Homo sapiens: one gene and its partners. The protein of the gene in region 3 interacts with the protein of the main gene of each other region in a pairwise test. Each region holds a gene or a part of one and is shown on either strand. Other genes may lie near its edges. The genes, in order: KCNIP1, MYF5, NHLH2 and TAF1D.

Region 1 (8,333 bases), on a different chromosome or scaffold from region 3:
CGCCAAATATAGGTCTTCTCCCTCATCATCTGTCTGACCACCATGCGGTCTCAGAGGCCAGGGGACTGTGGGGACAGGAAAGTCAGGGGCTTGTTTTTAAATATTTTCAATGCCTGTGGCTCTCCTGGGAGCTGGGTGTCACAGAAAGATCTCAAGCCCTAGAGTCAAGTGGAGTCTGGGTGTGAATCCCAGCTCCATCACTCCCTGCCTCTGGGACCTTAGGAAAGTCCCCCGCACCTCCCTAAGCCTCAGTTTTTCATCCATGAAATTCGTATGCTACTTCCCGGAGGGAAGGGTATGTAGGAAGTAGAGGAAGGGAAGACTCTGCCTCATATACTGTGTTGGCTGCAGCCACCAGGGACCCAGAGGAAGTTGTTGTAAGGATGTGAGAATCAAATGAATGATGAATAGGGAGCTCCGTGCATAGGGCTGGGAAAAGAGTAAGAGCTCAGACATTGCTGTCTACCATTTCCTTCTCCTGCCCCAAACATCCAGGAATTCACCCTGGATGAATTCCTGCAGGATTCCCAGAGTACAAAGGTCTTTGCTTCTGTCTCCTCGGATTCTAAGAAACAGAAGAGGGGGTACTGGCATTCAGTGTGTCCCTACTGTGTGCTTGCCATAATGCTCGGTGTTTTATCAACAACTCTCATTTAACCCTCACAACAATGTTCGTTTGAGGCTCATAGCAGGTTCGGGGCCAATGGGTGGACTCCCAAGACAAGCTATCGAAGCACTGGGCACTCAGCCCTTCCTGCACAAAGCCCACTGGCGTGAGTTGTCCAGGGGTCCAGCTGCATATGTTCCCCCAGGTATTTGCCCCCGAAGCACAGTCATCTCACTGCCTTGCATAGTGGAATGCTAATCAGCAGAAGACCCTTCTATGGGAGGCAGCTTGGAAACCTGGAGGAAGCCCTGGCTGAGGAGGCTAGTGGTCAGGGAGCCTATCCTGGCCAGGTCACTTTTCCCCACTGGGGCCTCGGTTTCTTCTTTGTAAAGGGAGAAACTTACATTAGGCATTTCCTCAGGTTCCATTTGGTTCTCAAATTCTAATATTTTTATGGTTGATGCTCTCACCAGAGCTGCTGCTATGATCTCAGAGACGTGAGGCTCAGATCTAATTAGAAGCAACCGGAAGAGAGCAGTTGGGATTTTTCAACTCAGGAATCAGTCTCCCTGCTGGGTTCAAATTCAGGCTCTGCCACTTACTAGCTGTATGACTAAGCCTTGTTTTCCTCAACTATAAAACAGAGATAGTAGTAGTTACCATCTTAAAATAGCTGTTGTGTTGTGTGGATTTCAAGGATCATGCAAGTCAAGCATTTAGCACAGTCTCTGCTACATAAGTGGTCAGCAAATTTGAGGTACTATTCAATTTATGGCTCTATTGTTTGGGGCTTCCAAATGTCCAGAGTAAGGCCATTTTCGAAGTAGGCAGTACATCTGAGAGCCTTAACAGCTCATTTCTGGAAACCTTATCCAGCCCTATCCAGATAACTAGGACCAAAAACCCCAGCACACAGATGCTCGTCCCTTGCTTCAACCCTCACTGACCTCTACTCTGTGGCTTGTCCTGAAAACATCAAAGCCTGCTCAATTAAAATCCTGAATGCCTTGATAATACAATTTAGAAACATACATAGTTTTTAAATAGGGCAAAAACTCTGCATGATTAGTGCTGCAAGAAGATATCCAGCCCAACCTGGGTGTTCAGGGAGCGCTCTCTAAAGGCAACAGAAATCTAAAGTAATTTAAGAGCCATGCCACTGAATAAAAATATTCAGGTTCATTTCCTGTCCTTCTCTCTGTTTGGGATCTTTGTGTGTCTTTAATTAAAAGTAGGAGAGCCCTGCTTTTGGGATTCAGCCTCTGCATCCCAGTCCCAGATAGAATTTCTGACTCTAGCAGTTTTGCATGTGCATGACACACCAAGGACACTGCTCCTGGCCTTGAATGGGTAAGTGAGACAGGCTAGGGCATTGAGGAGAACCAGAGGAGGACCATACAGGTGCAGCTGCTGGGCTTGTCAGCGGGGCAGGAGAATTTAGGGACAACATCACTAGACCAAGGCCATCTCAACAGAGAATTGCCTAGAAGCAAATAATCCCACACTACAGGGGTGGCTGGGTTAGAAATCCTCCATGACCGAGTGCAAGCATGCAGAACTTTCTGAAAGGGCTGAGCTTCGGATCTCCAGAATAGTCATAGCATAGGTGAGCTATGACTCAACCCCATGGCTATCAGATGCTTTTTCTAAGGCCACACGGTGAGTTAATAGGGTACTGGTTAATATAGGGCCAAACATGGGAATGTTCCCGATAGTCCCATATTTGCTCCTAGATCAATGAGCACCTCAGGGAACTTATGGAAGCAGAGTGTACCTGATGAGACTGGGTTTAGGGTTTATTGGTCAGGGCAGCATTTTCAACCTAAAGATATGGGAGAGTGACAAGAGACAGACAGGCATAGAGAAGCAGTAGCCGTGTTGTCACATAGTCCTGAGCCCAAGGGGCAGGCCTTTGGCAAGTCATTTCACCTTGTAAATGCTAGTTTCTTTATCTGCAAAAGGAGAATCCTGATGTATAGAAATGTTTGTGCTTTGGTCTTTACCCATCTTTGCATCTTTGCCTGTCCCTTTAATTCTATAATGCTCTCCCACCCCACCCCTTGCTGCCTTGTCTAATAGTTAAAATTCCACCGACATTCCAAGACCTCACTCAGCAATTTCCATATTCAGGAAGCCTTCTCCAAGCCCCAGAGAGAAGTGATTTCTCCCATCTGAATTCCCATATTCTTTTAAGGTGTACATTTTCTTATGACTCACAATCGCGCTTGGAATTAGACAATCAACGGAGGTGTTAACCCCCTTTCCCCACCACCAGAGGTCAGGGTTCTTGGGGGTAGGAGCTCGTCTAACTCATCCTTCACAACTCTCTGCTTGGTTCTGTGCACATAGTAGGTACTTAATAAAAATTTTCCTAGAGTAAACTATAAATAATGGAATGGTTGGCCACTCTCCATTATTTGCTAGAATTGCAGACCCTGCAGGAAAAGTTAGCTTCCCACCGGAATTTCAGTTACCAGCCCTCTGCCAGGAATGAATTCTGTTGTTCGGTCTGCTGGCTTTGAATTGACTTTGTCCATGAAATGTACCGAATCTGTTTACCATTTAGCAGGAAAGTGCTGAGAACAGTGATTCTACTCCCACTCCCTCATAATCACAAAGGTATGAGGAACCCACACCCAGCACCAGGCACAGTTCTGGTCCCTCAATCCCAGAAGAAGCTCAATGGAGCTCAAGATAAACAGAAAGAGAGAGATGGAAAAGAATGGAAGACAGAGGAGAAGGACTTACTGCCTAAAATCAGTGGGATTGTTTTGACTTGGTCTCTGGAAAAGGGCCAAGGCTTAGACCTCTTTGTCTGCCTGGAAGGGCCTTGCTCCATGAATGCTTTGTAAATCTGTAAGTGAATAAGTGAGCATATGCTTTAACAAATAAGTGAAAAGATGAATGATTGAATGAATGGGGGAAGCAGTAAAGGAGTGAATGAATGAAGCAACAAATGAATTATCAACTGAATGACAGAAAGAATGATCGAATAAATGACCACATGAATGAATGAATATGTCCATAAATGAATGAATGATGAAGTGCCAGAACAGCTATAATTAACAGCCTATCTTTTCACAAAGAGCATTGATAGTCATCTCCCCAAAGTTGAAAAATATAAATTCAGTCAAGAAGAGTCCTGGTAATTTTTTGGATACTGGTAGGTGTATAGTGTCTTTGGAGAAGGTGAGGAGATGTCTCTAAGTTTTCACTCTTTTGCTGAAACAAAAGCAGGGACTGACTCACAGTGATTCCCCTTGTCTTCCCTTATATTTCAGGTTCGTTCACCCTTGCCTGGGTGAGATCAGAATCTGTATATTTATCCACTCATTTATTTGTTCACTTAGCCAGTCCCACAATTGTCCTTCAGCATTGCTTCCCTGCCTAAGATCCACTCTGGCTTCCTCATCCTCCCTCTTCCTCCATCTCCTCATTCACCTGGCCAACTCCTACTTATCTTTCAAGGCCTCATTCAATGCCACCGCTCTGGGAAGCCTTTCCTGGCTTCTGTAGGCAGAGCACATCTCTGCCTTCTCTCTTTCCCCATAGCTGCTGCTGCTTCCCTTAACTACAATTCTGAACACACTATGAGGTTGTCATTATGGGTTTACACATTTATCTCTCTGACTAGCTTTCAGGCACTGAGTCTTATCCCAGGGCCTCTGTCAGGCCTGACACTGCATCCAGGCTTGATGGATGCTGGCGGCATGGAGGTAAGGATGGATGGGCCAGAGTGTGCGTTCTTGATGGCTCTGAGCGGTGTGAGAATGCGGCGGTGCAGATGAGGAATCCAGGTCTGCTCCTGGGGAGAAGCTCTGCAAAATTCTGCATAATGGCCGTGGAGCTGATGTTCCCATTCATCAGGCAGGGAAGGAACAGTTTTTAGAAAAGAGAGAGAGAGCCTAAGAGTCCTAGGGCCTTCAGAGAAACATCTCTTTAAATGCTTCCCCTTCCTCCGGGTAGTATTTTAAATAGGTCACCTTCTGGAAGTAGTGGTAGTCAGTTGGGATATTGCTAGCTTCCCGTACCCCAGCCATGGGAGTAGTACTTTGGATTAAATCTTGTTATTCAAGGCCAGACTAAAAGCCTCATTGGTGCGGTGGGGGGAAGTAGGAACCACATTCCACTCAAATCAGGAAGCTAGAAGTAGGATTGCATTATGGCTATGAGCACCGCGTTAAAATAAGAGTCTTGGGATTGAACTCCCTTTCATTGGTTCATAGCTGAGCCTTTCCAGGCCTCAGTTTCCTCTTCTATAAAATGGGGACAGTGGGCCAGGTATGGTGGCTCACATCTGTAATCCCAGCAGTTTGGAAGGTCAAGGTGGACAGATCACGAGGTCAGGAGTTCAAGACCAGCCTGGCCAATATGGTGAAACCCCATCTCTACTAAAAATACAAAAATTAGCCGGGCATGGTGGCATGCTCCTGTAATCCCAGTCACTCAGGAGGCTGAGGCAGGAGAATCGCTTGAACCGAGGAGACGGAGGTTGCAGTGAGCCAAGACTGCACCATTGCACTCCAGCCTGGATGACAGAGCGAGACTCCGTCTCAAAAAAAATAAAAATTAAAAAATGGGGACAATGACAGTGTCTCCCTATAGGGCCACGTGAGGGCCAAGAAGGAATTGAACATGGTGCTGCACACCAGGTGAGTTGGCAGTGCTGGCTTTGCTGCTGCCTTTTGTCCCATCTCAGGACAGGCCCCTTCCTTCTGCCTTGCTCCACTTGGATGATGACGGTGTTACCCTTGGTAATCTCCCCATCCCTTTGAGCTGTGGCCTCTGATTCCAGCCCTCTGAGATCCCGAGCCACCATATCCATGGTCACTGGCATTCTAAGCAGTTTCTCTGGTGATTCCTAAGGGAAGCTGTCAACTTTAGATGGTAAAAGCAATTCCCAACAGTGAGGTATGAAAATGCAGGTCACCCGCCAGGAAGGATAATAATACTAGCTCAAATGACTCTGGCCTCCACCCAGTGCCAGGCACCTTGCTCGGCTCTTTCCTGTGTTATTTTATTAACCCCAACCCTGGAGGACAAGATGCTATTACAGTTCTCATTTTGCAGTTGAGGAACCTGAGGCTCTAAAAAGGGAAGTGCCTTACTAAGGGTCATAGAGCTTGGGAATCGCAGAGCCTGGTTCTGGTTGATCCCAGACCCTGAGCTTCTAACTGCCATACTAACCTCCTCTCCTCCTGGCTTTGCCTCTGGAACCTTAGGGACCTGAGTAGAAAAACAGTCAAAACGGGTGCATGGATGTTGGGGAGAAGGCATTCAAGGATAGACTGAAGCACCTCATTAGCCACACGGAACAACTGAGCTACGTGCAGGCCCTGAGCAAAATGCTTTTAGCCCCATCCCAACCCCGCCTCCCCCTAGATCTGTTTCCATTTCATCTGACACTGTGGAAGCCTGAATATGAAATGATTGGGGGCAGAAGGCCAATTAGCAAATTCATTAATAGGATTAAACATCTCTCCTCTGCTCTAATCATTTATGTGAACTAAAATTTTCTCTCTTTGTTATAGCCATCATTGCCTGTCAGTGAAGATAGAGTGTTTAAATATCTTCCAAGTATGTTAGAATTGCAAACGTTCAGAACCAGGGACCAGGATCAGAGTTTTCACACGGTCCAGGTGGGCAAGGAGATCAGTCGGTTTACAAGTGGTTATCACTGCTAAGAAAAAAACACAAGAACTTGCTAGTACATTTGCAAGTACCTTACTGCTCATCTCCTTTCTCTCCTTAGCCACATGTTGGCCCAAATCACCTGCGTATGTTATACGGTTGTTATGAGCATACACTCCTGGTTAGGCAGACCTAGAATTCAAATCCTGGCTCTGCAACTCATTAGCTGTGTGACATTGAGCAGGTTACCTCGCTTCTGTGAACTTTCATCTCTACATAATCTAGAAAATGAAAGTATTGTTGATAATTCCCTCCCAGGTTGTTATGAGGATTAAATGCAGTCATGCATGTAAGATGCAGCGGTCAGCACTCAGAATGCGCTAAAGGTAAATTGTTACTATCTGGGTCTACTCCACTTAAAGTGTGCTCCTCCAACCAACAGCCTCAGCATCAGTTGGGAGCTTGTTAGAAATACAGAGTCCCGGCCAGGCGCGGTGGCTCACGCCTGTAATCCCAGCACTTTGGGAGGCCGAGGCTGGCGGATCATGAGGTCAGGAGATAGAGACCATCCCGGCTAACACGGTGAAACCCCGTCTCTACTAAAAATACAAAAAAATTAGCCAGGCGTGGTGGCGGGCGCGTGTAGTCCCAGCTACTCGGGAGGTTGAGGCAGGAGAATGGCGTGAACCCAGGAGGTGGAGCTTGCAGTGAGCCGAGATCGCGCCACTGCACTCCAGCCTGGGCGACAGAGCGAGACTCCATCTTGGAAAAAAAAAAAAAACCTCAACTCAGTGAGACCTACCCAGTCAGAACCTGCATTTTAACAAGATCACCAGATGGTTTATATGCCCACTGGAGTCTGAGGAATACTGGCCTAAAGTACAGATTATGGAACTATGTGTATTGTATTACACAAAATTATATATCAAGCCAGAAGAGGCTTTTGCTAAGACTTCTGATTTAAGCCTCATTTTACAAATAAGAAAATAGAATCCAGAGAAGGTGAGTGGTTTGCCCACAATCACACAGCTCAAGTGTTAGGCCTGACATCCGAACCCCAGCCCTGGTCATCTCATATAAATTGTTAAGAAGTCAGATTTCCAGATTTGCATTTCTGCAATCAAGCTTGTCTGTTTTTCTTTCTCTCTCTTTCTTTTTAACAACAAAGAAGTGCAGGATGATGTACGCCCATTAAGTTTTAGTTTACTCATTTTAAATGTTATTCCAGCCAACAGAGATCCTGAATCTTGACTCCACCAGCCATCATCTTAGCTGTACCTCCAAGTTTTCTGCTACCTGAAGAAATGATAAGGAGGCATTCTAGGTCTTTATCTAAGTTGCTTCTAAGAACATGGGCCAGAACAGGGTGCAGGACAGAGCCATGTGGACTGCAACTAGAGACTTGCCTGCATAATGGATTTCACTGATAATGTTCAGAATCCCAGAGCAGGATGGCAGCCTGGTTTACATACAGAGCCTTTGTGTGGGATTTGAAGCCAGAAAATGTGACTAAAGTAGGAGTCTAAACAGACACAGGTAGGGCCTGGGGAATGAAAGTCAAATGCCTTTTCCAGGGGGTCTAGTAGGACCTCTCTGTTGGTGGGGATCCCCCAAAAAAGTAATCTTTTTATTTTTGTAGGAGTCCTGTAATGGTTTCATTATTATTCTCACTTTGCAGAGTAGGAAACGTAGATGCAGGGAGGTTCTTGATTGGCTAGTGATTAGTAAGCAAGGACTTGAAGTGGATCTGATTGCGAGGCACTCCACCACCTGGGCTCCTGCCTGCAGCTGGAGGGCATATCCAGGACAAGCAAGCCTCTGAGCCCCAGGAAGAGGCTGAGCAGTTACAGCTAGTTTCCCAACTCCCAGGAACTGAAAATGACAGCCTCCTCTTGGCCCCATCAGCTCCTCACCCATGCCAACCCTGGACCCAGAGTGAGGGATGTTCTGGTGGAGACCATGAAGCTCCCAGCTGCCTGGGGGAAGCTGGCACATTTGCATCCGTGTGGCTGAGGCTGCACTTTCTCTCCATCTCTGGGATTCGCCCATGTATGACTCTCCCAGATGTCCAAATTGTGCACTCAGCAGGGGTGTC
Region 2 (8,656 bases), on a different chromosome or scaffold from region 3:
TTGTACATTAACCACCCCTTGTATTATATCCAGACCACTGAAAAGGCTCTAACTACTTCAAATTATCATTATCATATTCATTGAGAATATTAGGTATGCTTGCAAAGTTATAAAGCAATTGAGATTTGATTTGAAAAAGTTTAATTTTCATTCATTTGAACCAAAAATTTCATATTTTCTGCTTAATTATATTAAATGAAACAAAATATGGTAATGTGTTTAAAAATTGAAGTTTAAAAAACTAAACCAATATTTGAATTTTTTTCCTGTCTGATCCTATTAAAAACAAATCTCCAATGTCTCCATAGAAGTATCAAAAGGAGAAAATGTACCTAGCACAGTTTCTAACAAAAGTGGATAACCCAGACTTATGTTGGACATATACACAAATCTCTATCATGCCCTCTTGAATTCTTTTCATGTAAAATCCTCACACTCTGAAATCATGAGTAAAGACTTATATCTGTGTGCTAAAAGTCAGCGTTCCCTGTCAGGCCATGATGCTAACAGAGTGACAGTGGCCATCATATTTTTTAACTCAGCCCTTATACCTCCCTTATGGAATGATTCCCATTCCTTTAAGCTTCATGACTGCATAAGCATGAGCAAATCACACCAGAGAGAAAGAGAAACCTTCCTGAGAACAGTAGCATTGCCAAGCTCTAGTAAAGAGTCTGTATGCTTTTTTTAAATTAATGTATGTAACCACAAATCCTTAGGAATTTTAAATCAATGTACATATAAGAGGATTAAACAATTATCAATATTTGTTCTCTGTGAATAGCTACTTTAGATACTTTAAGAATCTCTTTTTAAAATCTCTCTCAATGGTAAACTTGTGATAATTATCCCAATCATTGTCTCAACCTAATTTTCCACTTAATTGTTCAATTTTTTCATATCAGTTCTTTCTAGAGGAGATTTAGGGTGATGAATATGAGACAAGTCTGTTTTACATACACACATGCACACACACGCATACATGATATGATTAATACAATAAAGTTTAAAAGGCTGTAAAAAGAAGGAAGAAAACTCAAGTCTGTCTCACTTCAGTATAATTTGTGTAAGTTTTCTTATGTTGGCACTCTAGCAATATAAAAAAAATCAGCCCAATACCTTTAAATATTTTATTGACAATATTAGTATATATTATCAAGATATTTTCAGGCAGGTAGTAAAAGTAAATATGATTTAACTCATGCCTTCTGTTGTACTATAGTTATTAAAATGATGTGATGTTGTATAGTCTTTTTTAAAAAAGCATGTGTTACTGTCCTGAATAACCTCTATCTTCCCTTCACACACAAACGACTTGATAGTATATGGTACAGTTCTAAGATAAAGGAAAAGTTTCATTTAGCAGGTTCACTTGAAATATATTTAAAATGAAAATATGACATTTTCACTTGTGACATCAACAGGACCTAAACTGGGTACATGAGAATGGTAAATATTCAGACTTATCTGAAAAGCCAACTGTTTAAGTATTTTCAGCTCACATGTAAAGATTTCATGTCAATGAACAGTAATTCCATTGGGGTGTTATTTTAAAAGATCATGAGCCAAAATATTTCTTGTAGTAAAAAATTTTATTTATGGTGGAATTTCCAAAATTTCTTATATCTTGAAATGATCCACAAAGTACTATTTTGTGCTTACATTTAAAAGATACATTTCTTACAAGAAAAGATCAAAATATATACATTAGGCAGTATTATATTTTTATTTAATACAATATAACTAAAGGATTAAAGAGAAAAGAAATAGTTAAATATATTTAAAATTCCATTTAACTGATTCTCAGCTGTTTTAATGTTTTAAAGAAAAAAATAAAGCTCTAAACACCAGAGACATTTTGATGAGCAATATTTATAATATATATATATGTATATATAAGTTAAGCATTGCAACAAGCTACCCTCAATCAATGGCCCCCTATCAGAAATAGTATTACTGGAACTATGTATTAATATCTAAGCAAAGAATAATAAAGAAGAAGAAAGTATTATTTGCAATGATGACTTTTTAGTTAAATACACTTTCTTATAAAGTGGCAAGGTAATCTTTACAAATTTACAACTGAAAAGAAATCTTTATGTACATGTTGTCTTGGTTTGGGACTTTTTGAAGCCTTCTTCTTCCTGTGTATTAGGCCCTCCTGGAAGAAGTCATATAGACCAGAAAATTAGTTCATAGCACATGATAGATAAGCCTGGAACTAGAAGCCCCTGGAGTTGCAGGCTGTGAATCGGTGCTGGCAACTGGAGAGAGAGAAGCCAGATCCTGGAGAGGCAACCCAGGTTGCTCTGAGGAGGTGATCCGGTCCACTATGTTGGATAAGCAATCCAAGCTGGATAAGGAGTTTTTATCTGTGGCATATACTAAGGATACAAGGAGAAAAGCATTAAAAAATAATTAGCCCAAGATAGACAGATTTGCTTATGTTGCTCCTTAAATTGTAGGTCAGCTCCTCTGACACCCAGAGGTCAGGTGGTCACAGAAAGCCTAACATAGAAATTTGCAACAAATATCTGGCAATTCCTGAGGGGTAGACGTGGGGAGTGGGGAAGCCCCCTGATAATATTTCAAGCAACATTGTGTGTGCATGTGTGTATGCATGTGTGCGTGCGTGTCTGCTAGGGGGATTTGGAGCAGAAGATGTGTTTATTTTGCTTTACCAAAGCCTCCCTATAAGAACCATCACTTCCATTCTCCCTTCCCCAATACTATCAGCAAGAACAGAATCTTATAGGCTGAATTGTTAGGTTGAACTGGTCTTTAAACTCCTGTGAAGTTATCAATTCTTACCATTTGATACATCAGGACAGTAGATGCTGTCAAAAGTACTGCTCTTTCTGGACCAGACAGGACTGTTACATTCGGGCTATAATACAAGACACACAACAAAGTTTGTTTTCAGGTCTTGGCAAAAGATGTTCTGACCAAAGGTGAGGCTGTGCTTGCCCACCAGCTCTGTAACCGAACACTGTCAATCACCTTCACTGCCTTGATTTAGGAAGGGCTAGCCCTCTCCAAATTCCCAGGGCACTGAGGTCAATCTCTGTGCTTGAAGAAGAGGAGAGCAGCAGCAAAGGGAAGAGGGGGTGGAATTCAGCAGCAATGTGCATTGGGTTAACCATGCAAAATGGATTGGAGTAGAAGAAAGCCACACTAATTCAGGGAAAGAACACTTTCCCAGGGCAAAAACACATTAAAACCTGGCAGCCTTGGAGCAAACGCCCTCTAAAAAGAATGCATCAACATCTTTCAGCCAGGCCTCATTGGAGCAGGAACTGGGGCCGTGTGGGTATTTCTTTCCATTTCCTCATTAAGTTAGAAACGGTGCCTTTAGATATTAGCGTAGGGCATGATCCACAGATGGCATATTTTGAAAATAAATTCAGGAATGGAGAAAACATCTGAGTGATCATTCACAGCCACCCATCTTCCATGTCAACACTCGATTACAGTGTACACCTAGAACCTGCTAGAAAGTTAAACTAAAATCTTGTTCAGCAGCGGTTTGGGGAGTCTTTCTAAATGTGGACCCCTCTCTTCTTTTAAAGCAACTCAGCATCTGCCTCCACCCCACTCTCCCCACCACACCAGGTTAAATGAGGTGTAAGGACTTTAGAAAAGATTAGGGTAGCCTAGCAGGTACCAGATCTATTGCTTACCATGCCATCAGAGCAGTTGGAGGTGGGGCTGGTGGGCTCCGAGCAGCTCTGTCCCGGCAGGCTATAGTAGTTCTCCACCTGCTCTCTCAGCAACTCCTGCAGGCTCTCGATGTAGCGGATGGCATTCCTGAGGATCTCCACCTTGGGCAGCCTCTGGTTGGGGTTGGTCGTGGTACACCTCTTGAGGGTTTCGAAAGCCTGGTTGACCTTCTTCAGGCGCCTCCGCTCGCGCATAGTGGCTGCCTTCCGCCGATCCATGGTGGTGGACTTCCTCTTGCAGGCTTTGCAGGCCCACATGAGGCAGTGACCAGCCTGGTGGTGGCCGGTAGGCGCTCGCACGTGCTCGTCCTCATCTGAGCCCTGCAGCTCTGCTTTGTGCGCTCCGAAGGCAGCCACTCGCGGCACAAACTCGTCCCCAAATTCACCCTCGGGGGACGGTATGCAGGAGCCGTCGTAGAAGTACTCAGAAGGTGAGAACTGGCAGCCATCCATCACGTCCATCCTGCTGAGAGGCAGGCGGTGCACCTGGACGGCAGCGAGAGGGATGGGGAGAAACGGGAGCCTGGCGCCTCCGCCGATGGGCAAATCCCGGGCGGAGCTCCCTAGTCTGTCGCTCCGGTAATTAACAAGGGCAGACGCCTGTTGGCCTGGGTAGACAAGCTGGGGTTGGGGTTCTTTATATATTCTTTCGGGAGGGAGGCCGGCCCCAGTGGCCAGGCACTATTAGCATATCCCACCGCAACCCCCGCGGGGGCTGTCTGGACAAACCTCCGCCTTTCCTCTACAGACAATCTGCTGTGTACTGCCCCTTTTGACGCTAATGGTTTTACTGTATTTCTGCTGGGGCGGCAGTGGGTCCCCAACCTGCTCATTTGCACTCTCTAGATAGGCTAAAACAAGGGATCACTTAAGGAGTGTTTCACACAAAAGTGACCAAGGCAGTCCAACTTTTTGCAATTGGACACACATTTTAAAATAGTGGTAATAAATAGAAATCCCTTTCAGCTGGCACCAAGAGCCGACCTGCCCTCCCAATCCTGGGCGTGAGGAATCACCTGATTTGGGGGTGTTTGTTTCTCTTTTTCATGAACTTCAATTATCTCGAAAACTTTTTCCAGCAATTGGATTGAATAACGGTTACTAAAAACTTGAAGTGGCATTTTCAATCTTGGAGTGAATACAGGGTTTGCCTTTCCAAATCTATTTTGTATAGCTTCAGATGAGTAAAGTTTTGCTCAGATTGTCATTTATTCTAGGCTCTACCTTATTGAGAGTAGGGAGGGAGGTTCCTTTTCCCATGACTGGGCTTGCTCTGAGTTCTCCCTGTATGTCTGCTCATCTAAAAGGAGGTGGGGCACAGGAGGGCCAGGTGACCAGGAACATTCCTCCCGTTCTTGCTTCCTTCATTTTCCCCTTCTGTACGTATTTGTTGAGCACCTTCTCCTTTGTGCCAGGCCTTCCCTAGATCCTGAGCAGGCCAAAGACCTGCACTGAAAGTGTCTCTAAGATTTCCAACAGAAGAAGCCCAGTTTTCGACGGCAAACTCCCTTTCCAGGGGTGAGTCTCCTTTCTCCCTCTCTTTCTGCTCCGCCCTGTCATTTCTACAGACTAAACAGCCAAGCTGGGCTTTGGGGTTGCTAATTTTCTGCTTTCAGGCAAACTAACACCGTTACAGATGCGTCCCAGCTGCCGCCACTGCAATCCTTGACTCGTGTAAAATTTCCAACTCCTCAAACCAGGAGTAACTTCACACACTTCAGTGACAAAAGCCTTCCAGAAAAGCAATCACAGCAGGGTCTTTAGAACTTCGATGGATAGAAGGCAAGAGGGGAGGGTTGTCATTTAAGTGGGAATGAATCTATTAATCAGCTTTTACCAATCCTCCTCCAACCTTAATCCACTTTCAGGTTATTTGGGTTGGGGAGGTGCTGTTTATATTTAGGAAAAGCAATTACTTAAGGTCTACACAATTAGTCTTGGGGTTTTGGACTAGGTCTTGTGGCCCCGTTGAAAGAAGCAGGAGTGTTCTCAACTCAATCTAGGGTAACCCAGTTCAATAAATATAGTGGCTCCGAAGTTATTGCGAGGAGGAGGGAGTTTTCCTTCCTATTATTATTATTATTTCTTTCAGTGAATGGTACTTTGTACTTTTTTTTCAGAATTATTTTCTTAAAGCAACACTGGTTCATTGATCCAGCATCTTCAGGGGCCAGAGAAGTAGCAACCTTTTCAGGGTGCGATCTCTCTAAAGTGAAGACCTTGAAAACCAGAGGTGGGAGAGTGACACTGTCAGTCACTAAGGTTTGCTAGCCACACCATTGCTGTCTCCTCTCTTCTGTCCTGTCATCTCTAAGAAAAAGATCTCTCCTGAAAATCAGGTTCCCTCTCACACCAATGGGCTGCTTAATCATCTGACCAGTGGGAAATCCATCTGCACCTTTTTTAGGGCTATTAACAAGTCTATGCCTTTGAAATGAATACGGTATCCAGGGCTACGCCAGATAAAAAGAGGCAAGTTCAAGAAGAACCCAGGTGGAAACTAAGATGCCATCCACGCTGGTGGAAACATTCAAATGCACAGCAAATGCAAAGCACATTGCTACCTCTGAAATACAATAGTGGGTAGATATCCTCCCCCAGGAATTCTCAGCCAAGTCCCACAGTTTCTATTAGCAGCCATATGACCACTTTTTTATTTTTTTGGCTGTGGAGTCCACAAATTAGCTCGGACTTGTGCTTTGGACACAAATAAACTTGGTCTTTAAAGTTTGAGTGAAAGTTAGAGGTTACGCTTCTGCTCATCTTTCAGCTAATTTCTGAAAGCACTTAACGTGATTTGTACTCAAGCCCCTCAGCGCGAAATATTTTTAACTAACAATTATTGAGAATTTTCTATTTGCCCCGCACTGTTCTCAACCCTTTCCTTAGATTAACTTAACAATTAATACTCCAAACCACCCTGTGGGAGCTATTATTGGGCCCATTGTAGAAAGAAAGTAAACTCGAGCTCCAGGGACTAGGTTATTTGCCCCAAGGTCATACAGGATTGGAAACTAGGCATCCTGTCATTATAGTTCCTACTCCTAGAGGTGATTTTGTTTGTTTTCTTCTTCAATTAATTTAGGCTCCGTGCGCTTCCTTAGGGCTCCAGAGCAGAAACTCGCAAAAGCTGGCTACTCAACATCTTTCCCTGGCTCCTGTGCCTGGGAAGACGCCGTCACTCAGGAGCCTCTGTCAGTAAGGGTAGTTCTCAGAGGTTAGAGCTGTCTCTGGTAAGGTGATCTCAAAACAAAGTTACCAGAGTGCCGCGAGCGAGTGGAACTAAAGAAGCCGAGAAAACACAAGCGCCCGGCGGCTTAATGGGACTTGCTAGCAGGAGAACAGGGTCCGGACTTGAGAGCCCTTGGGACGCAAGTGCTGAAAATAGGATCTCAGAGTACCAAAGTAAAAAGAAATAAGACAAAACTTTTAAAACGCTGTCAGGGGCGAGAGAAGAAAGAGAGAGAGAGAGAGAGAGAAAAAAAAAAGGCAATATGCTAAGACAGTAGGCAGCCAGCACCACAAAGATGGCTACAGTGTCCCAATTCAGGAGCGGTCTCCCTGCTCTTTTCCCAGGGGAGACCTGGAAGGGGAAAAAGAAAGAACTGGGTGAGCAACATAGAGAAAAGCATTTTTTTTTTTTGAGTGGGTTGGCCAGGGAAGCATGGGAAAAGTTTTAAAAATGGCTCTGAAAAGATCTACTCAGGGCACCCTTTTGTACTCAAAGTCGGATTAGATTGGCTTTTGCTCCTCACACAAAGAATGAAAATAAGTTTTCCACTATTTCTGCAAAGAAGTGGATTTCTTGCTTGCGGAGAAAACGCACATTTATTTCATATGTAAACAGGTTATTAGAAATGACACTCCAACACTGTCTGCTAGGAAAGTCTAACCATAGGTAGTTGAGGGGAAGAAAACCCAGTCACCTCTGGTGCTATAAATGGATACCCACTAAGGCTCTGGTGAAGTATTTATTTATTTATTTATTTCATTTTATATTCTGAAAAAATAAATACATTTGATTTTCTTACAATTTAGAATTATAACCAGGTTCTAACTGCAATGACCTTTACGTAACATCAACTTTTTTTTTAAGTGAAATCTGTGTTAGTTTAAGCATTATGGCAACACACTAATATTGATGGACAGATCACACCAGCAAAATGATGCTCATACCTTCTTCTTCTAATAAATTTTGCCCACCCTAGGCTTTCTGCATTATTGAAAATTCTCTATGCTTTTCTTGGAGGGAGAAACCAAATACATATAGAAGGATACATACATTCCAATTCACTTCTGCCCCTGCCTGCAGATCCTTATCAACTCCTGGACTAAGGGAGTTGTTCTTGATATTTTTTATATTATAGATGACTTCACAATGTGCTCAACAATTGCAAATTGCTATTAGCTCTGGGAATCAGGCACACCTAAGTAAACACATTAGTACCTGCCAGAGCTGCTGGAAGAATTTGTGAAGACAGCTGAGGAAGACATTGGCCTCTGCTTGAATTAGAGGACTTCCAGGAGAGATCAAAGGCCTAAGTAAGGACATTTAGCAGCCTTGAGAGTACAGAAAGTAGCCAGTTCTTACAGCATTATCTTTGTTCCAGCACATGGCATAGCCATTCCATCTCAGACTGACTCTGAACTAGGCTTGCAAAAAAATTGCTTTTTTCAGAGTGAAACCTCTATGATGGAGGATCATCTTTTATAAGTGTAATAGTTTAAGGGAGTGACTGGAGGGGCCTGTCAGAGAAATAGCTTGGTGGTTTGGCTCTTTGAGAAAATACTATGTTATTGATAATTTATCAATGCATTGGATTAGGCAATTAGATATTCAAAGCTTAAAAAAAATGTCAAAAAAAATTCCAGCTATGGTGTTGTGGGAGAGCGATTTTGAAACGACAAAATGGGATAAAATATTACTAGAAGAAAAA
Region 3 (8,335 bases):
GTGGGCCGAGCGGTACTTGGCCGTGGCGCGCCGGCGGCGGCGCTTCTCCTCGCGGCTCAGCTGCTGCGGGTGCGGGTAGAGCGCGGCTCGGCTGCCGCCCTTGCCGTCGCCCTCGGCCTCCTCCACCGGCTCCAGGTCCGACACGCTGCCGAGCACCTTGGTGTCCGTGCCGCCCAGGGACTCCGGATCCGAGTGCGCCGAGCTGGGATGGTCCGAATCTGCTGCTTGGTCCGGACTCAGCATCATTTTGGAGGCTGAGGAGGGGTCGGAAAATTAATCAGTAAAAGGAATCAGGGTATTTTGCTGGAAGGATGGCTGCCGAGGCCTACCACGCCGGTCCTCCCAGCGGACGCGCGGCCCGGGCCCCCTCCCCACAGCAGGCCGGCGCGCGACGCGGGAGGGCGCCGATAGGATCTGGCCCGAGGGCGCGAGCCCTGCGCCTCGCCCTGGCGCGGGAGCCGGCGGGGACGCGGTTGACCCAGGCCGCATACTAGACTGGACACCTCGACTTGCAGACGGCCACAGCGGGCCTGTGGCCCTGGGCCTGGGGAACAACCGCAGGCCTGTGGGGTCGCGACTGGGTTTTTGTGCCTCTTCCGGCCAAATGCCAACCGCGCTATTCCTCCTCCCTCCCTTCGTCCCCTTCCCGGACAAACGAGCGATTTCGAACAACGAATACATCTGGGTTTTCACGGGGGCGGGGAGACGCGGGGTGCACTTCTCGCCCCGAGGGCCTCCGGCGAAGCAACCCGGCAGCCGCGGCGCCCGAGGGCCTGGCGCTGGTCTGGGGCTGCGCCGGGGGCGCCTGGCTCTGGGGTGCGGCCGGTCAGGAATCCCCATCCTGGAGCGCAGGCGGAGAGCCAGTGGCTGGGGGCGGGAAGGCTTCTTGGACCCCTCGCGCTTCTCCGAAATCGTAAAGAAATGACTAAACAAACGTGGGGGAGCCTTTAAAAAGAAAATTGACTCCGATGCCCTCGCAGGCTCCCGGAGCACCATCTGTCACGCAGACAGCCACACACATAGGGGACCTAGGGACACGGCGACGTGGGATCAGACAATGCGCCCGGCAGTCTGGCGACCACCTTGCGGGAAAATGCCGGCAGCCGGGCCGCTGAGGGAGGAGAGGATGCAGAGGGAAGGGAAGAGAAGGGAAGGGCCCGGGGCGGGGCAGGCGGGGACTAGCGGGTGCAGCGCGTGTTGTCCCGGCGGGAGCTGCATCTCTGCCGGCAAAGTTCGGGCGCTCCCGGAACCGGAGCTCGGCAGGCTGCAGCTGTCCCCGGGTGGCCTGGCCAAGTCCGGGCATGTCGGTGCTTAGCCTTCCTCTAACTTAACTGTGCCCTCTTGGAAACGCCACCTGGCCAGGCTTCTCTGGGGCGCCTGGAGCACTGGCCCGGACTGTGCGCCTTCTGGGAGGGGGCCGCTCAGAACCGCTGGGCTTCCGGGTAATTCGGGCTTCGAGAAAGGGCCCGGCAGGAGGAGAAAGGCCCCTGCAGGGGCTGCACGCACCGCCCCTGGGCGTCGGGAGTGAGGACCAGGCTGAGAACTCGGGGCCCCGGCGTGGGCAGCCTCCACGACGCTCGGCACGGGAGAAATCCGCGTCGGCGACGTATAGGAGCGTTTGCTTCTAGAGAAACAAAAGCAAGGGGATGGGTGATCGGTTCCCAGCACCGCACTTGCAGAGGAGCGAATTGGGCCAAAACAGCTTTAATTTCCCTGCGAGGAAATCAGGTCCTCTACGGCAAAATAAAAACAAATGCTCCCAGAGAGCTGCATGTGACTCCCTACGGGCTTTTCTCGGGTACGTTTATGAGTAGAACAACTTGCACCTACACAGTCAGCTTGAAAGGGCAGAAATAAATAGACGAGTAATGGAAAATCACAATAAGCCACTAAATAGTTGTAGTTCTGGTAAAAAGTTCCTGGGTTGCCCTCAAAGCACATTAAATTCTCCTCTAGATCTTTAAAAATATTCATAAATAGTATGCCGTGTATGCGTTTTATCTCTTTATGGAATGAACTGCATCTATAGATACAGTATGAATAATCTAACTTATTTCAAGCTGAAAAAAATTATTTAAAGGAGTCTTACCTTGCAAAAGCCTTTTTGATAATCTGTTCTCCAATCTTTAGAGTTAAAATTCCAAGGAATAGCGAGGGGAGATTCCGGAAAATATTAAAAGCAGCAAATATTTATTACATTCAAAAATGAAAAAGCAGCTGTCATCTCGCTGGTGTCCGCAGCGAGGGACAATAATATCTCAGGATGTAGACGATATGAATGATTGTTCACTTAGTTGATAGATTTTTTAAAAAACGCTTTTTCCTTTTAATTGTTCTCAAACATTGCAAGAAATTCGTTGATGATTTTTTTAAACGATGTGTTGAAAAGTCTCGTGCCTTTTTTCCTCTTCTAGGTCTCTAAAAATAACAAAAGAGATGCAGAGATAAACACAATCACATCAAAGGGCTGATTCCTCCACTTTCTAATAGCGGAATAATCAATAAGAAAGATGGTTAAGATAAGATTCCGCTCCTATCGTATGCCTTTCTTTTCCTTAATACGGCTGAGCAGAAACTGGGAAGTGCAGGACAGAGATGTGATCTTGCTCAGAAGTGATTTTTTTTTTTTTTTTGAGATAAGGCTTTGTTCAGCTGATATCTCCCCAGTTCCCAGGAACACAATACTGTAACTAGGAGCTAAGGTTGCCTCTTCCTCTTCCCTCACTTACTTGTATGTTGTATAAATAGACACCTATTTTCCAGTTTCAAAGTCTTTCAAGGTTTGGCTATATCCCCCGTCCCCAGCCCCTCTTCTCTTTACCTTGTAGCAAAATATATATAGTCAGTGGCTTGGAGATGCTTGGAGAAAGGTTGGTGAAAAGTGAACGTCTCCTGGAGTAACAGTGACAAGGAAGCAGAGAAAGACGGGAAGAGGGTGGGAGAGCCAGAGCAAAGAGGCAGAGATGCGTGTGTGGCTTCTGGGCTCTCCTGGTACCAATTGATTCAGCCTGGAGATGGTGGAAGAGATAAAGGCTTAGGAAGGGGGATGGAATTTTTTTCCCCTAAATTGATATTTAATGGGAAATCCTATTGGACAGAAACCTGGACATGAGTCACTTAATTGGACTTGACATCTGTCACAGTGTGGGAGTTTTCACAGCCCAAATATTTTAGCAGATCAGATTCCCACTGAATCTGTGCCATAAAATATAACAATTGAAAAGCAGTTCATGATAGAAATCTTAGCCTCTAAACAGTATCTAGCCGTAGTCAGGCTATTTCTCTTTTCCAGATTATTGATGAAATATTTAAGTACAAATAAACAATATATTGACTATCAAAGAATTCCCCTGGCATATTACAAAGCCACCACTTTCCCTTAATATTTAGAAAAATATTTGTGTCCAGAACATGGAAATATATACTATATAAGATGCTGCAATAAAGTATTTAGACATGCAACAGCCAACATTTATTAGAGATCATTTACATTTTAAAAGATACTTCAGTAAGGTTTGATTAAGCATATTAACATTTTTGAGAAATGATCTGCTATGAGACTAACTTATCAATAGATGGTAAGAACCTTTCAATAGATTAAGCCATTGGTGGAACTAGAAAGAGAATCCACATATTCACGGACCACGACATGAGATAATTCTACTTTTCTGTATGTTTGTTTTTCTCTCCACCCACTCATTCATTCAAGCTGAAATATGACATGCTACATGTGTTGATTATTGCACTTCATTCTTGCCCATCTTAACATGCTAATATATTGTACTGCGTGGCAGTGCTTGTGCCAAGATGTAAACACAAATTACCAGTGTGTCCCAGTACATAATGCCTTTGCCTTACATGATCCCATGGCCCTGAATTTGTATACCTTATAATAAAAAATAAAATCTAGTTCAATTATTTTGCCACTTTATGAAGATACTCATAGTTAATATCAATAACATATTATTTGTGATTATTTTAGCTTGTTTTGATCATACAAGCTTAAAGAAATAAAAGAGCATTACAGCCTTACTCCCACCCCGCCAGTTCCTAGGGGAACATTTGTGGAGAGAGGAGTCCTCACTTGTCTTCCTTAATTTTGCCCTAAAAGCAGATTTTATCACCAGGGGAGGCACATTGAGCAGCCCACCCCTGGGAGTGACCCTCCGGGTTTTTCATGGCTTCCACAAGTACTATTTGCCTTTGCCCACATTTTTGCTCCTTTGAGAGATTCCTGGACCACAATGGGGCAGGGGTCGGGGAAAGGAGGGAGTGCCTCCAACAAATAAGGGCACCAACACTCCCCAGCCTTGCTTCTGCCTAACCCCAGCACAGAGGTATATTTTAGATATCCCCAGAACGTTAAAGTGAAGATGGAAGCCGGTCCCATACAGGTGGCAATGGAAATGGGTGAGTGGATAAACACCCCAAGGTGGTGACAATGAAGGGAGAAGGGAGGTTTTCTCACTCTAGTTAGGAACAGCCAATGCTAAGCATTCACACACAACCAGAAGTGTGCACACAGATGCACACCCACAGACACCTGTACCTCCTCCCCCTTCATCATACAAGCTGGCTGGCTCTATTAGACCACCACACATCCATACTGATGGATTGAAAAAAACTGGTGGGTCTAATCACCATAGCTCTAGAGTGGGCAGCTGCTACAGTGGGAAAGGACCAGCATCTCTGGTTCCCCTGGTGTTGGGGAGTCATGACAGGGTGTGCCTATCAGGGCAGGTCCAATTCTGCTATGGTGTGTGTGATACCAGACAAATTCCCTTTTATGTTCAGGCTTACTCATTCTATACCAGCAGCCAGCATACACAAAAATTAATGCTTACAGAAGTAAGCCTGTATAAACAGGTACACACTCAGATCCATACTTAGTGATGCCTAGCCACACTGTCATAGACACAGACATGGATTCACATTCACACACACACATTCTTTCTTCCATCAAAGCCTCCCCCTCCCCCACCCCTTTGCCTTTTCTAAGACCTCCCTGGCACAGATGGCCCCTCCTTCTGTGCTCCATAAGCACTCCTTTCATGTCTCCCTTAGAGACTACATATTGTGTACCGTGATTCTTGGTTCTTGGTTACCACACTGGTCTCTCTTCCTAGGCTATGATGCTTCCAGGGGAGGTCTGTAGCTTATATCCCCAGCACTAATGTCTGAGCTTGACACATTATAGGTACTCAGTTCATTTATGATGTGACTCTATGTACAGAGGTACCCCAGATATTTGTAACATAGAAACGCTTCCACTAAAGGACACCCATGGTTCAGTTCTATCAATTTTCTTTCCTGTAAAAATGAGAATAATAATATTGCACTTCTCATTTCACAGGCTCGCTATGAGACCCAATGTATTTGAAAATATTTGATGAAATAGTAAGCACCATACAAATTATGATATTATAGACTATAAGAGTAATATTAAATAATATTATTAAATGAATGGGGAGGTGATAAGTAGTGACTTAAAAAGTCCGGCTTTGTGGCTCTGTCATATGCTAGCTGTGTGAATTTAGTTGTAAGTTACTTAACCTTTTTGGACCTTAGTTTTCTAATCTGTAAAATGAGAATAATCAAAGCATGTTATGTAATGTTATGTCATGTTTTTTTCTGAAGGTGAACAAGATAATATATGTAAAGTGCTTAAACTAATGCCTAGAACTCATGTTCAGTAAGTGTTGGCTATCATTATTATTATTATTCAGTATAAATACATATTGAGGAACAGATATATATTGACATAGAAAAATAAACATATCCAGATATACTCACCCGTGTGTGTGTGTGTGTGTGTGTGTGTGTGTGTGTGTGTGTGTGTGTGTCTGTCCATAGCTCTGGTGGCCAAACTACAATGAGCATTTTCCATGTGTCAGACCTAGGTATAGTGACTTTGCTCATATTAACTTATTTAACCTTCACCACAAACCTGTGAGGTAGGTAGGTACTGTTGTCCCGATTTTGTGTATAAGAAAACTAGGACATGGAAAAGATGGTAATCTACTCAAGGTCACATAGCTAATAAATTATGGAGCTAAGATAGAGATTCAGGTGGTCTAAATTCAGAAACTGCACTCTCAGACACAAAGTACTACTGTTTCTGTCATTGTATCCTACACAGATATACTCACACAGAACTATTCACCAAAATGCATATGGCAAGGGAGAAATACACGTACACACAAAACTTAGATAAATGGCCACCTTTGCATTCAGGGGTGGTTAGTGAGTGATATGGTTTGGCTGTGTCCCCACCCAAATCTCAACTGGAATTGTACTTGCCATAATTCCCGGGTAGGAGGTAATTGAATGCTATTCTCATGAAAAGAGTAAGTTATCATGAGATCTGATGGTTTTATAGGGAGCTTACCCCTTTGCTCAGCTCTCATTCTTCTCTCTCCTGCTGCCTTGTAAAGAAGGACATGTTTGCTTCCCCTTCCATCATGATTATAAGTTTCCTGAGGCCTCCTTAGCCCTGAGGAACTGTGAGTCAATTAAACATTTTTCCTTTATAAATTACCCAGTCTCAGGTATGTTCTTATATCAGCATGAGAATGGACTAACACAGTGTCAGTGTAGTTTAAATACTTACTGCACATCTAGTGCTTTGCCAGATACTGTTGGACTACAAAGGCTTTGTAATTATTTGTTACTTTTATGAGACATCTGTTTCCAACCTATTTTTTAAAATTTTGTACCCCATAGATAAAAATTTAGGGCATACATACTGAGTATATGTATATTTATATGTATATACCCAATTATAACTACATAATATACTAGTACAGTAGTACATGTATAAGCTTTGTACATGTACTACTGTACTAGTATATTATATAATTATGATATACAAAAGATAAGCAAAGATATGATAAAAATATTTATTTTAAAATTTGTAAGTATTTATCAATAGATACATTTATAAATTTAAATATTCATATTTATTATTAAATATATGATAAACTTAAAAATAATATTAATAAACTAATTAATTTTATTTATTAACAGCACAAAAACCAATTAACAGCATAAGGTTTTATTGATCATGTATAACTTCTGAGAGCAATAAGCTTAATTTTGTTAAACTCATTGTTTAACCCTTTGAGATAATGATTTGATCATCTGGTTTTAAGATCAATTTATTTAGAATCTGTTTTTTGGCTGATATAGCAGAAAGAGATGTAATACAAAAATTCAGATGGTATCACAAAATATGATAAGCATGTGAAGTGATGGATATGTAAATTAGCTTGATTTACTCATTCCACAGTGTAAACATATATCAACACATCACATTGTACATCATAAATGTATACCATTTTTATTTGTCAATTTAAAAAAAAATAAGAAAAAGTGGAAACATCCCAAAGGTCCATCAACTGATGGATGGATAAACAGAATGTGATATAACCATACAATAGACTACTATTCGGCAAGAAAAGAAACAAAGTACTAATACATGTGACAACATGGATGAACCTCAAAAACATTATGCTGAGTGAAAGAAGCCAGACACAAAGACCACATATTGCGTGACTCCATTCATATGGAAAGGTACAGAATGAGCAAATCTATAGAAACAGAGGTAGATTAATGGCTGTGCAGGGATAAGATCGGGTAAAGAAAGGTACCAGGGAGTGATTGCTAATCAGCAGAGTTTCATCTTGGGATGATGGAAATATTCTAAAATTAGATTTTGGTGATGATTTCATGACTCTGTAAATATACTAAAAAACATTGAGCTGTGTGCCTTAACTATGGTATGTTAAGTATATCTCAATAAAGCTATTAGAAAATTCAGAAGACATAATGTGTGATATTTATGTCACTGTAGTGGGTAAAGGGCGTGATGTCTTTTCTCACCCATCATAAGGGTCACAGCTGACACTCCTTTAACAAAAGACAGGTTAACATGAAAAGCATAACATATTTATCTAATCAGAGTTTTACATGACACAGGAGTCTTCAGAATGAAGACCCAAAGATCCAAAGGAAAACTGTCCATTTTTATGCCTAGATTTGATGCAGAGTGGATAGCCGTGCAGAAATGCGACTGGACAAAAAGGGAATGATCTTACAGCAACAGACTGAATGAGGAAACCCAGGAAAGCCTGCCTGTTAAGATTCTACTTGGTCTCTCTGTGTGGCATTCCTTTTTCCAGGGATAGTGCAAGACCCCTTTTAGAATGAGGGTCTTATAATCTACTTGCAGACAGAGTAGGTCAGAGAATTTCTGTATGGTCAGCTCTTACACAGAAAAATGGGAGAATGTTAGAATACTATTTCTAGGTTTTATGGCTGGCTTTGGAGAGAGGGG
Region 4 (4,762 bases), on a different chromosome or scaffold from region 3:
TGTGGCTAATGATAAAACTACATTTTTTACTTATATTGAAAGATGCTTTTGTTGGAAGGGACGGTACTTTTTTGGAATCTTGTTGCGTTGAATACATTTAGAGGGTAACAACTGAAAGAACCTGTGAATAGAATTTCTGGATTTCTTTTTAAAGAAACTGATCTGAAATGGATAAGAAGCTTAACCTTGGTAAATGATTTCGCCTGAAATCATTGGCATAGTCTGACCACGTTCAACACTGTAGTAGATACTGTCAATATTTAGGGAAGCTTTGTCATATTTACTAAATTTCATAATTTCAGAAAACTGTTTAAAACAAAGAGCAATTGATGGATAAATCAGGAATAGATTCTCTTGACCATGTGACATCTGATGCTGTGGAACTTGCAAATCGAAGGTGAGTGGATTCAATCATGTTTATTGTATCTGAATTATGAGAAACTATTGTATATAATGAGTGACAGTAAAGATAATTTTCAGGAATTGGGAAAGAAGGAAAACTAGATTTCACTGACCTTCCAAGTTTATCTAGTTACATAGATTGATATAATAGCATTGCAAATACTTTAAATTCAAAATGTGAATATATTATGGGACACATTCGTCGAGAAAAAATGTATTCTTTGGGTCATATTAGCATCTCTTCCAGACTACATCCTCCGGTTCGGTAGGCTGTGTTTGTTTTACTCAGACACTCTTAGCAGTGAACCGAACCATACAGCCTTTTGGAGCTCATACATTGTCTTGAAAGATACAGTTTTTTTGTAAGCTGAGCATAGTGGTGCATGCCATTAGTCCTAGCTAGCTACTTGGGAGGCTGAGGCAGGAGCATCCCTGGAGTTTCCAGGAGTTTGAGGTTGCAGTGAGCTGTGATTGCACCACTGCACTCCAGTCTGGGTGACAGCAAGACGATGTCTACAAAACTCTTTAATAAGAGCTGTAGCATTATGGGCTATTTAAATAGGATGATCAGTAGAAAGGCTAGCTGGTTCTGAGCCCATCCTTTAAAAAATTTTTAATTCTGGGCATGTTTTCTGAGTTGGTCTTGGAAGAAATGTACATTTAGGACTGGGTATTAATGGTAATAAGCAGTAAGAAAAGAAGATGAAATTAATTTTTTTCCCATTTTTCTAGTGATAACTCTTCTGATAGCAGCTTATTTAAAACTCAGTGTATCCCTTACTCACCTAAAGGGGAGAAAAGAAACCCCATTCGAAAATTTGTTCGTACACCTGAAAGTGTTCACGCAAGTGATTCATCAAGTGACTCATCTTTTGAACCAATACCATTGACTATAAAAGCTATTTTTGAAAGATTCAAGAACAGGAAAAAGAGATATAAAAAAAAGAAAAAGAGGAGGTACCAGCCAACAGGAAGACCACGGGGAAGACCAGAAGGAAGGAGAAATCCTATATACTCACTAATAGATAAGAAGAAACAATTTAGAAGCAGAGGATCTGGCTTCCCATTTTTAGAATCAGAGAATGAAAAAAACGCACCTTGGAGAAAAATTTTAACGTTTGAGGTGAGTCAGCATTTTACATACATGGCTACACATAACTCAAGATGCCCAAAATGATTTGTTGGCCAATTTAGAATTGTCTCAGATATACTGGGAACAGACTGTCTGCAATTTTGATACTCTTCTATACTGACTTACCCCTAAAGTCCACCCTATCCTTCAACTGAATCTTGACTTGTATCTCTTAATATAACTACACTTTGCCATATTTAAAAGATAGTGCTCCAAGGCTCTTTGTATAAAATCCTTTGATCTTATCCCATCTCAGGTCTTTAAACACAACCCTAAAACTCAGTGGGGATAATAAAAGCTCACATAACTTGAAATTACTTTTGCAGTAACCTAAACTAAAACCACACATGCCTTATGTTCAGTGGATATATTCTTAAGGCCTAGATGTTTCTAAGCCAATTATCTGAAAAATACGCTAATACTTAGGAGTAGACTTTTTTAAATATTTGAGAGTTGTATGTTGAATGAATTCAGAATTAATTTATGATCCCTTGCCAGAACCTGAAATTTTATTTGGGAGGATTAATACATGTTAATCTCTTCAGTTAATCTCTTAAGTTTAAGGTGATTATAGTAAACATTAGAAATCTTATTCCTGTTTTTACATTTTAAAATGCCTTTAGTAAGTCCCAGACATGACAAGATATGTACTTCACTTTTCCATGTTACCAGCTTAGGTAAATTCATAATTGTAATGTGAATTTTAATAATCAGCATTTGATAAGTCCACAAGTGGGGAGTAGTTAAGATAGCAAATTCAGAGTCTTTGCTAAGGGGGGGCATTGCCCTTTTTGAACATAGGCACCTGCTGGGTCTTAAAAATAAAATCTCGACATACTTATGGTGTTTTTAATATATAGCAAGCTGTTGCAAGAGGATTTTTTAACTATATTGAAAAACTGAAGTATGAACACCACCTGAAAGAATCATTGAAGCAAATGAATGTTGGTGAAGATTTAGAAAATGAAGATTTTGACAGTCGTAGATACAAATTTTTGGATGATGATGGATCCATTTCTCCTATTGAGGAGTCAACGTAAGTGGAATCATATGAAATACTTTGGTAATAGGTTATAAATTAAATTTCTATGTTAATTGCTTCATATTTTGCCTTTAATATAGTTATACTTAAATAATGAACAAAGATACAGAGTATGACAATTGGGATTATTACAGTTGAGCCAAGCTTGGCACACCGTTCATCTAGAATTCTCCAGAACACAAAATTCTCAAATTTTGTGTTTCCTTTGACTAGTATTGCAGTTTCAGTTATATTTCAGAGTGGAATATACAACTAATTAGGTCATCGAAGATTCTGTCATCTCGATGATAAATTTTAATATTACAGAGCAGAGGATGAGGATGCAACACATCTTGAAGATAACGAATGTGATATCAAATTGGCAGTAAGTGACTTATTTTTTTCCTATTCCATTTTGGGAAGGCAGGAGTTGGTTGATACAGAAGGAATTATATTTAGTTTTTCTCTTACACTTCATTTAACTTTTGAAAAGCTCTATAAGTTTACTGCAGGAAATGCAAGAAGGAAAATAATTTTTTAGAGACTTGATAAAGAACATGGGGTTTTCAGTACTATTTTTAATAAGTAGCATTCTGATACATATTATTGCTAGTTAGGATGTCAAATGAAAAAATAAGCAATGTTAATTTGGATTTTTAACATCTACATGTAGTCTCTAGGTTATCTGAAGTAATCCAGGGCATTCAGCTATATGTAATTACTAAACTATTTGAGTTATTGCTTAATCCATGATTTTTTGTTTGTTTTATGCAGGGGGATAGTTTCATAGTAAGTTCTGAATTCCCTGTAAGACTGAGTGTATACTTAGAAGAAGAGGATATTACTGAAGAAGCTGCTTTGTCTAAAAAGAGAGCTACAAAAGCCAAAAATACTGGACAGAGAGGCCTGAAAATGTGACAGGATCATGAATGTCAAAGGTGAAGCATATAGAAAAAACGACTTCATAGAAATGAATAAAGATAAATGTGGATATATGTACCAGTCTGGTGGTGAAGAAATTCTGAAACCCAGAACTTTATAACAAGAAAAAAAATTTTTAACCCTGTGAAGAAGTTTGTGAAAGAAACTTGTGAAGTAGTAATAATTAGAAAAAAAACCATTAAAACACCAGAGAAAATACATAGAAAAATTTGAGAAATTGTCATTTGATTTCTGAATAAGAGCTTACAGGTGTCCTGTGAGTATTGAAACAATGAAATGTAGTGATTTTAATTTTGAAAAGAAAATCTTAAAGTAACTTGACACCCAACCATCTTGAAGAGGGGATTTGAAATGCTGTAATTTTATCCCAGCTTTGTTCAGCCATGACAAGTGACCTGTCAGATGCTTAGTATTGTAATAACCTCATTTCCCTTTCCAAATTTAGAGTATCTTTAATACTATTTTTTTTAGACAGAGTCTCGATCTGTCACCCAGGCTGTAGTGCAATGGCCGCAGTCTTGGCTTACTGCAACCTCCATCTCCCGGGTTCAAGCGATTCTGCCTCAGCCTCCTTAGTAGCTGGGATTACAGGCGTTAGCCAGCACACCCAGCTAGTTTTTGTTTTTTTAGTAGAGACAGGCTTTCACCATGGTCTCGAACTCCTGACCTCAGGCGATCCGCCTGCCTTGGCCTCCCAAAATGCTGGGATTATAGGTGTGAGCCATGGCACCTGGCCTAATACTACTTTTAACTACCATTTTCACTTTTTATTAGTTCAAGAAAAGGCATACACATTTATTCAACATGTATACCTGGGGAGAACCAGTCATTACCCCGATGTTCATTATTTTGATCACCACGATAGAGCTGACTACTCTGCTATGTAGTGCATTTTGGGACTGCACTTATGTATGTTTTTGTTTAACGTGGACAAAGACTTACAGATAGGTGCAAAAAATAAATCCTCTTTTGCAACCCAGAACTCATTGTTCAGTATGAGTTTTGATACATATAAGAAGGGATATTATGATACCTGAGACAGTTGATTGATGGGAGTATTGATAGCCATAAAGGTTGGTTCCAGGCCAGGTGCAATGGGTCAAGCCTGCAATCCCCACACCAAGGTGGGAGTATTGCTTGAAACCAGGAGTTCAAGACCAGCCTAGGCAAGAAAGTAAGAAACACATCTCCACAAAAATTTAAAAATTAGCTGGGTACTGGGGCATGTGCCTGTAGTTGGAGTTACTCAGAAAGGGGGGAGGCTG

Evidence for each region.
Region 1: the proteins of NHLH2 (region 3) and KCNIP1 interact in binary tests that used the Homo sapiens proteins (3 or more experiments, as listed by UniProt).
Region 2: the proteins of NHLH2 (region 3) and MYF5 interact in binary tests that used the Homo sapiens proteins (3 or more experiments, as listed by UniProt).
Region 4: the proteins of NHLH2 (region 3) and TAF1D interact in binary tests that used the Homo sapiens proteins (3 or more experiments, as listed by UniProt).

Annotation. Positions count from the first base shown.
Region 1 is NC_000005.10:170,506,047-170,514,379, forward strand, and holds part of KCNIP1 (A-type potassium channel modulatory protein KCNIP1), read left to right. Parts: intron 1-8,333. UniProt on the Homo sapiens protein: Regulatory subunit of Kv4/D (Shal)-type voltage-gated rapidly inactivating A-type potassium channels. Regulates channel density, inactivation kinetics and rate of recovery from inactivation in a calcium-dependent and isoform-specific manner.
Region 2 is NC_000012.12:80,712,589-80,721,244, reverse strand, and holds MYF5 (myogenic factor 5), read right to left. Parts: upstream 4,334-8,656; 5' UTR 4,182-4,333; coding exon 3,681-4,181; intron 2,888-3,680; coding exon 2,812-2,887; intron 2,385-2,811; coding exon 2,194-2,384; 3' UTR 1,574-2,193; downstream 1-1,573.
Region 3 is NC_000001.11:115,838,127-115,846,461, forward strand, and holds the start of NHLH2 (helix-loop-helix protein 2), read right to left. Parts: upstream 3,001-8,335; 5' UTR 2,822-3,000; intron 2,578-2,821; exon of another isoform or gene 2,419-2,577; 5' UTR 2,090-2,418; intron 255-2,089; 5' UTR 247-254; coding exon 1-246. UniProt on the Homo sapiens protein: Transcription factor which binds the E box motif 5'-CA[TC][AG]TG-3'. Involved in regulating energy expenditure, body mass, voluntary physical activity, mating behavior and reproductive longevity, acting through the hypothalamic-pituitary-gonadal axis.
Region 4 is NC_000011.10:93,734,872-93,739,633, reverse strand, and holds the end of TAF1D (TATA box-binding protein-associated factor RNA polymerase I subunit D), read left to right. Parts: intron 1-302; 5' UTR 303-329; coding exon 330-397; intron 398-1,134; coding exon 1,135-1,525; intron 1,526-2,394; coding exon 2,395-2,570; intron 2,571-2,882; coding exon 2,883-2,940; intron 2,941-3,329; coding exon 3,330-3,473; 3' UTR 3,474-4,067; downstream 4,068-4,762. UniProt on the Homo sapiens protein: Component of the transcription factor SL1/TIF-IB complex, which is involved in the assembly of the PIC (preinitiation complex) during RNA polymerase I-dependent transcription.